3 linked regions of the Homo sapiens genome follow. The protein of the gene in region 2 purifies or fractionates together with the protein of the main gene of each other region. This does not show direct contact. Each region holds a gene or a part of one and is shown on either strand. Other genes may lie near its edges.

Region 1 (3,747 bases), on a different chromosome or scaffold from region 2:
TCAAGTGATTCTCCTGCCTCAGCCTCCTGAGTAGCTGGGACTACAAGTGCATGCCACCACACCTGCTTTGCTTTTATTTCTGAAAGATAGTTTGCCAGTTATAAGATTCTTGGCTAATAGTTTCTACCCTCACTTTGAATAAGTCTACTCATTCTTCTGGCCTGCATTTTTTCTAATGGGAAGTCAGTTATTAAGCTTACAAAGTTCCACTGTGATGTGATAAGTCATTTTTCTCTTCTGCTTTCATGATTTTCCACTTATTTTTGGTTTTCAACATTTTTACTATGATGTTGGATATGGGTCTCTTTGTGTTCATCCAACTTGGAGTTTGTTGAACTTCTCCAATGTGTGGTTGAGTGTTTTTCATCACGTTTGGCAAGATTTTAGCCATTACTTTCTTGAGTATTTTTTCTGCCTCTTTCTCTCCTTTCCTTCTGGTGCTTCCATTTTATGTATGTTCATCAAGTTGATGATACTTTATATTTCTCTGAGTCTGTTCATTTTTCTTCATTCTCTTTTCTCCTTGTTCTTCATATTACATAATTTCTTTGATCTCTAAGTTTGCTAATTCTTTATTTTGCCAGCTCAGATCTCTTGTTGGATCCCTTGAGTGATTTTTTCATTTTGTTTGTTGTACTTTTTTTTTTTTTTTTTTTTTTGAGTTTCGCTCTGTCGCTGAGGCTGGAGTGTAATGGTGTGATCTTGGCTCATTGCAACCTCCGCCTCCTGGGTTCAAGTGATTCTCCTGCCTCAGCCTCCTGAGTAGCTGGAACTACAGGCACACACCACCATACCCGGCTAATTTTGTATTTTTAGTAGAGACAGGGTTTCACCATATTGGCCAGGCTGGTCTCAAACTCCTGGCTTCAAGTAATCCGCCTGCCTCAGCCTCCCAAAGTGCTGGGATTACAGACGTGAGCCACCATGCCCAGTCTGTTGTACTTTTAAACTCTAGGATTTCTAAATGGTTTTTTTGTTTTTGTTTTTTTGAGATGGAGTCTTGCTTTGTTGCCCAGGCTGGAGTGCAGTGGCACTATCTCAGCTCATTGCAGCCTCCACCTCCCAGGTTCAAGCGATTCTCTGCCTCAGCCTCCTGAGCAGCTGGGATTACAGGTGCCCACCATACCTGGCTAATTTTTGTATTTTTAGTAGAGATGGCGTTTCGCCATGTTGGCCAGGCTTGTCTTGAACTCCTGGCCTCAAATGATCCACCCACCTCAGCCTCTCAAAATGCTGGGATTACAGGCGTGAGCCACCGCACCTGGTCTAAATGGATCTTTTTTATAATTTCTGTCTTTATTTATATTCTCTATATGATAAGTCATGGTTTCCCTTAGGTCTTTGAACATATTTATAAAAGCTGCTTTATAGTCTTTGTAAAGTCCAACATTTTAGCGTTCTCAAAGGCAGTTTCCATTGCCTGCTTTTTTTCTTCTGAATGGGTCAATGGGTCACAATTTATTCTTTGTATACTTCATACTTTTTTGTCAAAAACTGGACATTTTAGATAATTGTGCAACTCTGGATACTACACTGCAGCTGTCCCCAACTTTTCTGGCACCAGGACAGGTTTCGTGGAAGACAGTTTTTCCACTGGGGTGGGAGACGGGGGGATGGTTTCGGTATGATTCAAGTGCATTGCATTTATTAGAGTCTCACAAGGAACATGCAACCTAGATCCCTCCCATGTGCAGTTCACAATAGGGTTCACACTCCTGTGGGAACCTAATGCCACTGCTGATCTGATGGGAGGCAGAGCTCAACTTTACTCACCCATGGCTCACCTCCTGCTGTGCAGCCGGGTTCCTAACAGGCTGCAGACCAGTACCAGTCCATGGTCCAGGGGTTGGGGACACCTGCTATACTGGTTTCTCCTTCCCACTAGAGGTTGATTGTGTTGTTTGCTTGGTAATTTGTTTCCTTAGTGACTTGCCTGCAGCAGCTCTCTGAAGTCTGTTTCTCTTGTAGTGTGCAGCCTCTGATGTCACTGCTCATATTTTCTTGTTTTTATCTTTTGGCCTAACTCCCTGTGTGTTGCCAGTGGGTCAGTAGAAGCCACTTATTAGTCAAAGGTTGTGCTTAAGACCTTTTAGCCAATTAAATTTTTTTATCCTTTACTGTTGGATATGTGTGTGTGATTTTGACATAGCCATCACAAATCAGGGAGTTTACATTTTGCCCCACATTCAGTGAGGAACTAGCAGCTTGGAAGTTCCCTCTCTGATTTCTTCTCGGAGAGAGTACATCCTTGGACATACACCAGGGATGTATGTGATTTTTTTAATTTTATTTTTATTTTTTATTTTTCATTTCTTGAGATGAAGTCTCACTCTGTCACTCAGGCTGGAGTGCAGTGGTACAATCTCAGCTGACTGAAACCTCCGCCTCCTGGGTTTTCCTGCCTAAGCCTCCAAGTAGCTGGGACTACAGGCGTGTACCACCACACCCGGCTATTATTATTATTTTTAAGCTTAGCTTTCTAGGAGTTGCCTCTGAGTTAGGGTAGCTTATTGTTCAGCCAGTGTTGGTTCAGTGGTTGTGCTTTAGCCCTTGGTGCCAGTGAAGCATCCACCCTTTTTTGATAGATCTATGTGTGGTCTGGGGAATACTCTCAAGTCAAGCCCCACGTCCTGCTCTGATTGCTCCTGAGTGGGTGCAGCCTGGTGCAAGCACACAGTCTTCCCAACCCCCAGTGTTGGTCATGATTCCAGAAGGACTTTTCTTGGCTTTCTGTTTCTCTGGTTCTGCCTGTTAAACTTCTGGAGGCTTTGCCATTTGGGTTTGTCATACCAGTGCCATAGAGCTAGCAGCACCTTGTAATTGCTCTCCACCAAGATCTCTATGGTTTTCAACACCCTTAGGCATAGAATTCTCCACACTGTGTTCCAAATAAAGTCAGTCCTCTCAGGCAGAGCTTTGGAGCTCTTCATTCTTCAGGCCTTCCTTCCCTCCTGGGCAGAACTTCTGCACAAGGGCCCACTTCTCCTACAGTGATACCCACCTGCTGTATGAGTAGGTGCTGGGGGAAAGAGGTGTTAGCCCCTGGTCTTCTTGACTTGCCTTTTCTGTTGCAGAATCTCTAATCTACGAACAAGCTGGAATGGGAGCAATTGAAGTCTAAATATTGTCAGCCTACCAGGCCTGGGATAGAGCTTCTGCTCTACAAATAGGGTAGGGAACCTCAGTCCTCTTAGCTTCACCAGCAAATAGAACTTCCACAATATAGAGTAGAAATCATCTGGGAGAGACTGGTGTCCTAAATAGAATTTGAAAAATACATAAATAATTACAGTGTCACAGAGGTCACATAAGAACAGAAATAAAGTCTATAAGCTCTAGCAATATGGAAGTCCTTGGTGACATTTTTTGAAGCTGGTTTAATGTGAAATGTGGTTGGAGTCAAAGCCAGATTATAAAGGACTAAGGATTAAATGAATTGAGGAATGAAGATTATGCTTTTAAACATTTTAGCCATTCAAGTTTCCAAACAACTACATGTTTCATTTTGCTTTTCTCTTTCAGTTCATTATGTCCTATTTCTTTTTTCTCATAGGTGAGACCTGGAACCCCTTCAAATTACAGTACCAGCTGAGAAATGTACGAGAGCGCATCGCAAAGAACCTAGTAGAGAAAGGTATTCTAACCACTGAGAAGCAGAATTTCCTGCTATTTGACATGACTACTCATCCAGTGACCAATACAACAGAGAAACAGCGACTAGTGAAAAAACTTCAAGATAGTGTACTA
Region 2 (3,747 bases):
GCCCTGGCCTCCCCTCGGACCTGCTTCCCTCCGTTCCCACCCCTCACACCTATGGCCAGCCCATCAGTGAGGTTGTGTAGACCATCTCCCAGGAGGACCATCCACGTGATATCAGTGCCACCCTGGTGCCCATGACTGTGGCCTTGGTGCCCAGGAGGGGCCAGAGCTGGTGGGTGCTGGCTGTTCTTCTCCCTCTGGCCCTGAGCCCCTGGCTCTGCGGGAAGAAGCACAGGACAGTGTTGGTGGCTGCAAGTAAGGACTGTGAGCTTGGAACCTACTCTTCAAATTTTCTCCTCTAGTCACCTGGAGCTGCCTGTAGGGGCTGAAGGGCCATCCCACTGCCATTCTCCGGATCCAAGTTGCGTGTTTCGAGATTCCTTCGTTTTCGCCTGCAGCATCTCTGAAATAGGAGGGCATCCCTCCTGGTGGAGGAGGCAGCAGAGCCAGGGACTAAGGGGAAGCCAGGCCACAAGCTGGGAAGATGAACACCTGGTTCCACCTCTGGCACCTGGGATGTTCTTTGGCCTCTACCTTCTTCCCAAGTTGGCACCTCCCCTCTGTTTCTTGTTGACTTGAGCTCAGAATAGGATGCCATTTGGCCAGAAGTCCTGGGTCTGTGCTTAAGGAGCCCCTACCCACTCCCTGTTAGCCGATAGGTCCTGCACACCAGGCAAATGTCAGAGATCCAGGAGCACACACTGCTCCTCATCTCTTGGCTTTTTGGCCCAGTTTTGTTGTTGTTGTTGTTGTTTTTGAGATGGAGTCTCGCTCTGTCACCTGGGCTGGAGTGCAGTGGTGCCATCTTAGCTCGCTGCAACCTCCACCTCCCAAGTCAAGCGATTCTCCTGCCTCAGCCTCCTGAGTAGCTGGGATTACAGACACGCACCACCACGCCCAGCTAATTTTTGTATTTTTAGTAGAGACAGGGTTTCACCATGTTGGTCAGGCTGGACTCGAACTCCTAACCTTGTGATCTGCCCGCCTTGGGCTCCCAAAGTGCTGGGATTACAGGCGTGAGCCACCGCGCCCGGCCTGGCCCAGTTCTTGACTGGGACTCTGGTCTCAGCAGAAGGAGGAGAAAAGGGTATCACTCACTGGCCTGAGCCCTCGGTGCCGCAAAAGCCCCAGCATGTTCTCCAGCACAAAGAGCAGGAAGAGGCCTCCGAGCACTGACAGCCCCGGGCCCAGGTCCTTCTCTGGTAGTCCGCCAGGTCCTGCGTGCCGCCCTTCTTGTGCCTGACAGAGAGAAGGTCAGGGCAGACTCTGGAAGCCCCTATACCCAACAACATCCCCTTGCATGGATTGTGGCAAGCCTTCGCTCATATGCTCTACTAGAAGGCAGCTGTGGGCTGAAGCCAGGATCTGGGAGTAGGATATGGGAGCTGATGGAAAGGCGGAGGGGATGTCCTATGGCTGGGGACACCTTAGATCCATGGAGGCCAGGGGTACAAGGAAGGGGCTTCACATACATGCGGTAGCAGATGTAGCAGTGCATCCCCACAAAGAGTGCCCACCGCCAGGGCCCCCAGGAAGCCCAGCAAGGGCCGTAGTAGACGAGGTCCCAGGAGCCGCAGCAGCAGCAGGGATAGGGGAGAAGGGAGGCTGAGCAACAGGACTGCCAGGGCACTCTGAAGCAGGGCTGGGGAGAATCAGGGGCTGAAGTTAGGTCAGGGCAAGAGGAGGGTCCCACACGTAAGGTGGAGCAGAGAGAACACTACAAGGAGAGGCAGGACCCCAGTGAGCCTCCTTTTTGGCATGGGCCCCACTTCCAGGATTCAGGGTGTCCCCCACCCACTCCTACTTGCTGACCAGATAGTAGATCCCCTGGGGGTGCAGGGGCCGGAGCGCCGATGCAGACGCGGCTGTCGATCTGATAAAGCAGGGCTGGGCACAGCAGAGCAAACTGACGAGGGGTCAGAGGAGCAGCGGGGCTCAAGCCAAAATTGACCAGCAGCTGGGAGCCGTTCAGACACTGGAGAATTGAGGGTCATACATTGGAGAATCACCAGGAACTATGACTCAGATCTTTAACACCTGGCCAGGTGTAGTGGCTCACACCTATAATCCCAGCCCTTGAGAGGCCCAGGCGGGTGTATCATCTGAGGTCAGGAGTTTGAGACCAACCTGGCCAACATAGTGAAACCCTGTCTCTACTAAAAATACAAAAATTAGCTGGGGATGAGCCGGGTGCGGTGGCTCACGCCTGTAATCCCAGCACTTTGGGAGGCTGAGGTGGGTAGATTGCCTGAGCTCAGGAGTTCGAGACCAGCCTGGGCAACATGGTGAAACCCTGTCTCTACTAAAATACAAAAAATTAGCTGGGCATGGTGGCGTGCACCTGTGATCCCAGCTACTCAGGAGGCTGAGACAGGAGAATCGCTTGAACCCAGGAGGCAGAGGTTGCAGTGAGCCGAGATTGCACCAGTGCACTCCAGCCTGGGCGACAGAGTGAGACTCCATCTCAAAAAAAAAAAAAAAAAATTAGCTGGGGATAGTAGTGAACACCTATAATCCCAGCTACTCGGGAGGCTGAGGCAGGAGAATTGCTTTAACCCAGGAGGTGGAGGTTGCAGTGAGCCAAGATCACGCCATTGCACTCCAGCCTGGGTGACAGAGTCAGACTCTACCTCAAAAAAATATATATATATATATTTAACACCTGTCCTTCCATTGCATAGACTCCTGGGTCTCTCCCAGGGTCCCCTTTGCTCCTACTGGCAGGTACCTTGGGGACTAGGGCCAAGGGTACTTATAATCAATGTGTATTATTAGTGAATATTCAGTCCAATGCAGGTATTCAATTTGATGCAAACTGGGTGCTAGTGAGCATTGTCATCATCTTCCCTGCAAACTCTGATCATTTCAATCATTTTGTTGATTTGATAAATGAAGCTGGTTGGAAAACTAGAGCTCTCCATGCCAGAATCTTAAAAGGGAAAAGACCCTGAAATGCCATCTAATCTCCCTCTCAACAGCCCTGTCGATGTTCATCCAGCCTCAGCTTGAATGCTTCCTGCAATGGGCACTCACTGGACCTCCATCAGGGTTAGGCAGCTTTGTCTGCCCTCTGGTGTAAGTGGAATATATTCTCTGTCTTTCTGGATGAAGACAGCCATCCATTCCCTGCAGGTCTCCTCTCCAGGTGACCATCCAGATCCTACCCTGGGCTGCTTCTCTAGATTCTCTGCTTTGCCATCTATTCCCCTAAACTGAGTCTTGGAGCTCTGGATATGGGCTCACCTGCTCTGATCCCAGAGGGAACATAGTTCACTATTGAAATAACATCCCCTAAGACCACAGTGAGATATTTTTTTTTTATTTTTTTATTTTTTTTATTTTCATTTTTGAGACAGAGTCTCGCTGTGTTACCCAGGCTGGAGTGCAGTGGTGCAATCTCGGCTGACTGCAATCTCCGCCTCCTGGGTTCAAGTGATTTTCCTGCCTCAGCCTTCCGAGTAACTGGGATTATAGGCATGTGCCACCACGCCCAGCTATTTTTTTTTTTTTTTTTTTTTTTTTTTTTTTTTTTTTGAGACAGAGTCTCCCTCTTGTTGCCCAGGCTGGAGTGCAAATGGTGCCATCTTGGCTCACTGCAACCTCTGCCTCCCAAGTTCAAGCAATTTTCTCACCTCAGCCTCCTGAGTAGCTAGGATTACACACACCTGTTACCACACCCGGCTAATTTTTGTATTTTTTAGTAGAGATGGGGTTTCACCATGTTGGCCAGGCTGGTCTCGAACTCCTGAC
Region 3 (3,747 bases), on a different chromosome or scaffold from region 2:
AAGAGTTTGGTTTTCAACATATTGTTAGAGATGCCTATTAGACACATCTAAGATATTAAAACAAATAAATACACAGTAGAAAAGAAATGAAGAATGAACAGAACTACTACTTGGATAGAAAGTGCTTGTCCGTGACCTTACCAAATGTATATTTCTCAAGACAGCATTGGAATTACATTGGCCCAGTAGGAACTCTCACGGCTCCTACAGACAAAAATTTGTGAGCATCTGTTTACCGTTTTTTCCTTATTCGATATAATGGATTGCACAGACAAGCCACATTCTTTCTTCTTGCTTTTAAGTAATACGATTTGTTTGGGAAACCAGCTGCTGGGTTTGTTGTTCAAGGTTGATGAGTAACCTTAGAGATTGCAATGAGAAGCTGCTGGTCACAGACAGATGCCAAGTTCTTCAACCAGGGCTGGAGAGCATTGTAGCCACTCTTCTGGAGAGCATTGTAGCCACTCTTCTCTGGGCTGACCTGCTCATGCAGTCCCCCGCTTTTTTAACTGCACATATAAATCATCCAGTTATAGTATGATTTAAATAAGATTTTGCTTCCCTGCTCAGAAAGAAAGTACAAAAATTGCTTGTTGCTTGATGGAGGCTTTACAGAGCTGTGATTAAAAAGGAGCATACTACCTGGGTTTGAATCTTAGCTCCATCACTCACTAGGTGTTTGAATGCCTTAAGGTAGTCATCTCTGAAATGGGGATCATAATAGGACCTACTACTCTAAGGTGCGATTGTTGTGAAGATTAATCTTAATTCTGGCATGAAATAAGTATAAAATGGAAGCTCATCACACTGTTATTAAATTAATTTACTTTTTTCCTATGGATATAGATCTAGGAATCTCAAGATCTCAGCCCAAGGACCATTACCCATTTCTATCAACGACCAAGCAGGCCACGGGCTCTGATTTATATCCTCAGCCCCCTATTCCACTCACCTCCCCCTTTCTTAATCAAAGAGCACCACGGGATGGTGCCCCCAAGGAAGCCCTGGGAGGCTGAAAAGGAGGGAGCCTGAAACCAGAGACTAACAGTGGCAAATCGCGGGTGGGATTTGGCAGTTCAGAAAAGGAGGTACCATGCCAAGAGTGGGGGTAGCGGGGTGAAGTAGCGGGGTGAAGTGGGGGGCTGGTTCGGGACAGGCCACAAACCAGAAACTGCGAGAAGGCGCCAGAAGGGACCTGTTGAGATGGCGCAGGGTTGGGGGACCCAAGCGCGCGGGGAGGGGTGAACTAAGAATGGAGTCACGCGGAGGTGCTGCGAGGGACTGGGGCAAAGGCAGGTGATTGGGCGAGGGAGTCCTGGTTGCCACGGCAGCGACCAGAGGAGAAGGCTTCGAGGAGAGGAGGAGGCTGCTGTCAGTCCTCCTCCTGGAGGTCTCCCGCATCCCTCCTAGAGCCTCTGCTGACGTGTCAGTCGGAAACTGCTCAGACCTTCGCGGGCGCCGCCCCTCTGCGCTTGTCTTCCCACATGCCCCCGGCGCTCCGCCTGGTCCCTGCCCGCGTCCCTGCCCCCGTCCCTGCCCCCGTCCCTGCCCCCGTCCCCGCCCCGTCCCCGCCCCCGCCCCCGCCCCCGTCCCCGCCCCCGTCCCCGCCCCGTCCCCGCCCCAGCCCCCGCCCCAGCCCCCCCGTCCCCGCCCCGTCCCCGCCCCCGTCCCGCCCCTCTGCGCCCGCCCCGGCCTCCTCCTCCGCGTCACCGGCTCCCCGAGGTGACCACAACATGGCTGCGGCGCCTGGGCTGCTCGTCTGGCTGCTCGTGCTCCGGCTGCCCTGGCGGGTGCCGGGCCAGCTGGACCCCAGCACTGGCCGGCGGTTCTCGGAGCACAAACTCTGCGCGGACGACGAATGCAGCAGTGAGTGCGCTGGAGGGGCGGCTGGCCTCGGGGCGGCTGGCCTTGGGGTCTCCGCCGGCCCCGGGGGTCTCCGCGGCGGCGCCGCCTGGGCTGTGCGGGGACGGGAGTTCCGCAGCCCCTGGCCGGCCCGGGGGTCGCAGGCGGGATGGGCTGAACGCGGGGGTGGGCGCGCTCCGGGTCCCTGTGTCTGCCTTCTCCCGCTCTGCCTGCGCCCGGCCCCTCGGGCCTGACCATGGGGGCTGCACCTCCCACTTGTTGCCAGCGTTTTATTTTTCCTCTGCTGAGGCGGGGGGTTGCTTGCGGTGGTCCCCGGCTTCCCCAATAGTGGCTCACAGCGTCCCCTTCCCACCCCCCCAATCCGCCTGGGCTCGGAGGGTAGATGTGGTTGCGCGCCGCGCGTCTGGGCTCCCCACGCCGCAACCAAAGCTTTCCTGCCCGCGCTGCGGGGACCTCGGTGGGTGCATCACCCCGGCAGATGCGCTAAGGGCTCGGTGGGCGTTTTCCCAGTGGCAGGTTGATGGTGGGGTTTGTTTGGAAAGGCTCCCTGGCGCTGCTCCTTTGCCCTTCTGCTTTATTGGGATTTGGGCTTGTACCGCCTTTTGAACAGGAATTGGGAGTTTAGGTTTGGGACGAGTCTGGAGTCCAAGCACTCATTGTATTCCGAGGTCTCTGCCCCGACTTTGATCAATCCTGTCGTTTCTGTGCTTGGAAGCCGCCTTGCAGACTGCTAGGCAGGACTGCAGGAAGACCAAAATCTTTCGCTCTGCAGAGACCGAGGATCTGCACCGGCCACCTGGGACCGGCAGCCTCCTCTTCTGTGCGCAGGAAGCGGAATTGCTCTCCAGTCTGGGATTGGAGGTGGGCGGTGGAGAGGGCACAGATCTTCAGGCTCAGATGAAGAAGGTTATTACAGGAATGACAGTAAATACTCCAAGGGTCTCATAAGCCAAGCTTGGTTTAGCCTTAGCCGCTTGCGTGTTGAAACCTCTTCCCTCTATGTTCGCCGGACCAGGATCATTTTAGGGCCTCCCAGACCGTCTCAACCTTGTAACTTACTGATAGCCACTGCAGAAACGGTTTTTCATACACTGTTAAGCAATGCCTATAGAAACGTATTCATTTTAAGAAGGCCAAGAACTCTATGGTTTAGCTATTTATATTCAAATTGATGTTATCAAAACCGAATTTCATAATATGAACTGTTTGTATCTCTACAACACTAATCAAGAAAAGAGATCTCTAATGAGTGTGAAGCCATTCCTAGAGATAACCCTGTGGTTGATGTAAATAAACACTACAAAAGCGGTACAACTGCCATGATTTTTCCCTTTAGTTTTCTTGGGTCAAAGCCACGCTGTTACCCATTTGCCGTTGGCAATGGCAAGATAGTTGGTATTCTTTGCTTGCAAGCATTGCCCTGCCTGGGTTCCTCAAAACAGGTTACCTGGAGAATCATCACATCACTGATGCTTCTTCAGTACTGAGGCATGATGTTAGAAGAGCTCACGGTTGTAACATAACTTGAGAAATGGTACGTGTTCAGAGGAAACCAAATACAATAGGCATCAACAGGAGCAAGGTCTAGATGGGTCTGTGTTGTGTTGTAGAAAGTGTTTAGTAATGTGAGTATGTACGGTGCCCTTGTGTGGTTTTCAAATAGCTGTTCCACAGGGTGCATTTTGTTGGCATCTCAAATATTATTATAAATCCTCTATGATCTATTGTAAGGGGGAGCAAAAGAAACATTGCCATTTTCAATTCTGATCTTATTCCCAACCTTAAATTGTCCATCATCTTAAACCTGGCCTCACACTCAATTATATCTGAGCTACAAAGCTGACATGTTGGAAAGTAATCAGAGTTTAGCTTCAAAAAACAAGT

Evidence for each region.
Region 1: the proteins of SLC39A5 (region 2) and GOLPH3L purify together in Homo sapiens (affinity purification with mass spectrometry; 3 studies listed by BioGRID and IntAct, with this or other methods). This does not show direct contact.
Region 3: the proteins of SLC39A5 (region 2) and MIA3 purify together in Homo sapiens (affinity purification with mass spectrometry; 3 studies listed by BioGRID and IntAct, with this or other methods). This does not show direct contact.

The regions. Positions count from the first base shown.
Region 1 is NC_000001.11:150,648,555-150,652,301, reverse strand, and holds part of GOLPH3L (Golgi phosphoprotein 3-like), read left to right. Parts: intron 1-3,074; coding exon of another isoform or gene 3,075-3,121; exon of another isoform or gene 3,122-3,170; intron 3,171-3,553; coding exon 3,554-3,747. UniProt on the Homo sapiens protein: Phosphatidylinositol-4-phosphate-binding protein that may antagonize the action of GOLPH3 which is required for the process of vesicle budding at the Golgi and anterograde transport to the plasma membrane.
Region 2 is NC_000012.12:56,233,049-56,236,795, reverse strand, and holds part of SLC39A5 (zinc transporter ZIP5 precursor), read right to left. Parts: intron 1,973-3,747; coding exon 1,810-1,972; intron 1,640-1,809; coding exon 1,470-1,639; intron 1,237-1,469; coding exon 1,096-1,236; intron 423-1,095; exon of another isoform or gene 401-422; coding exon 304-400; intron 215-303; coding exon 50-214; intron 1-49. UniProt on the Homo sapiens protein: Uniporter that transports zinc(2+) into polarized cells of enterocytes, pancreatic acinar and endoderm cells across the basolateral membrane and participates, notably, in zinc excretion from the intestine by the uptake of zinc from the blood into the intestine.
Region 3 is NC_000001.11:222,616,378-222,620,124, forward strand, and holds the start of MIA3 (transport and Golgi organization protein 1 homolog isoform 1 precursor), read left to right. Parts: upstream 1-1,719; 5' UTR 1,720-1,733; coding exon 1,734-1,866; intron 1,867-3,747.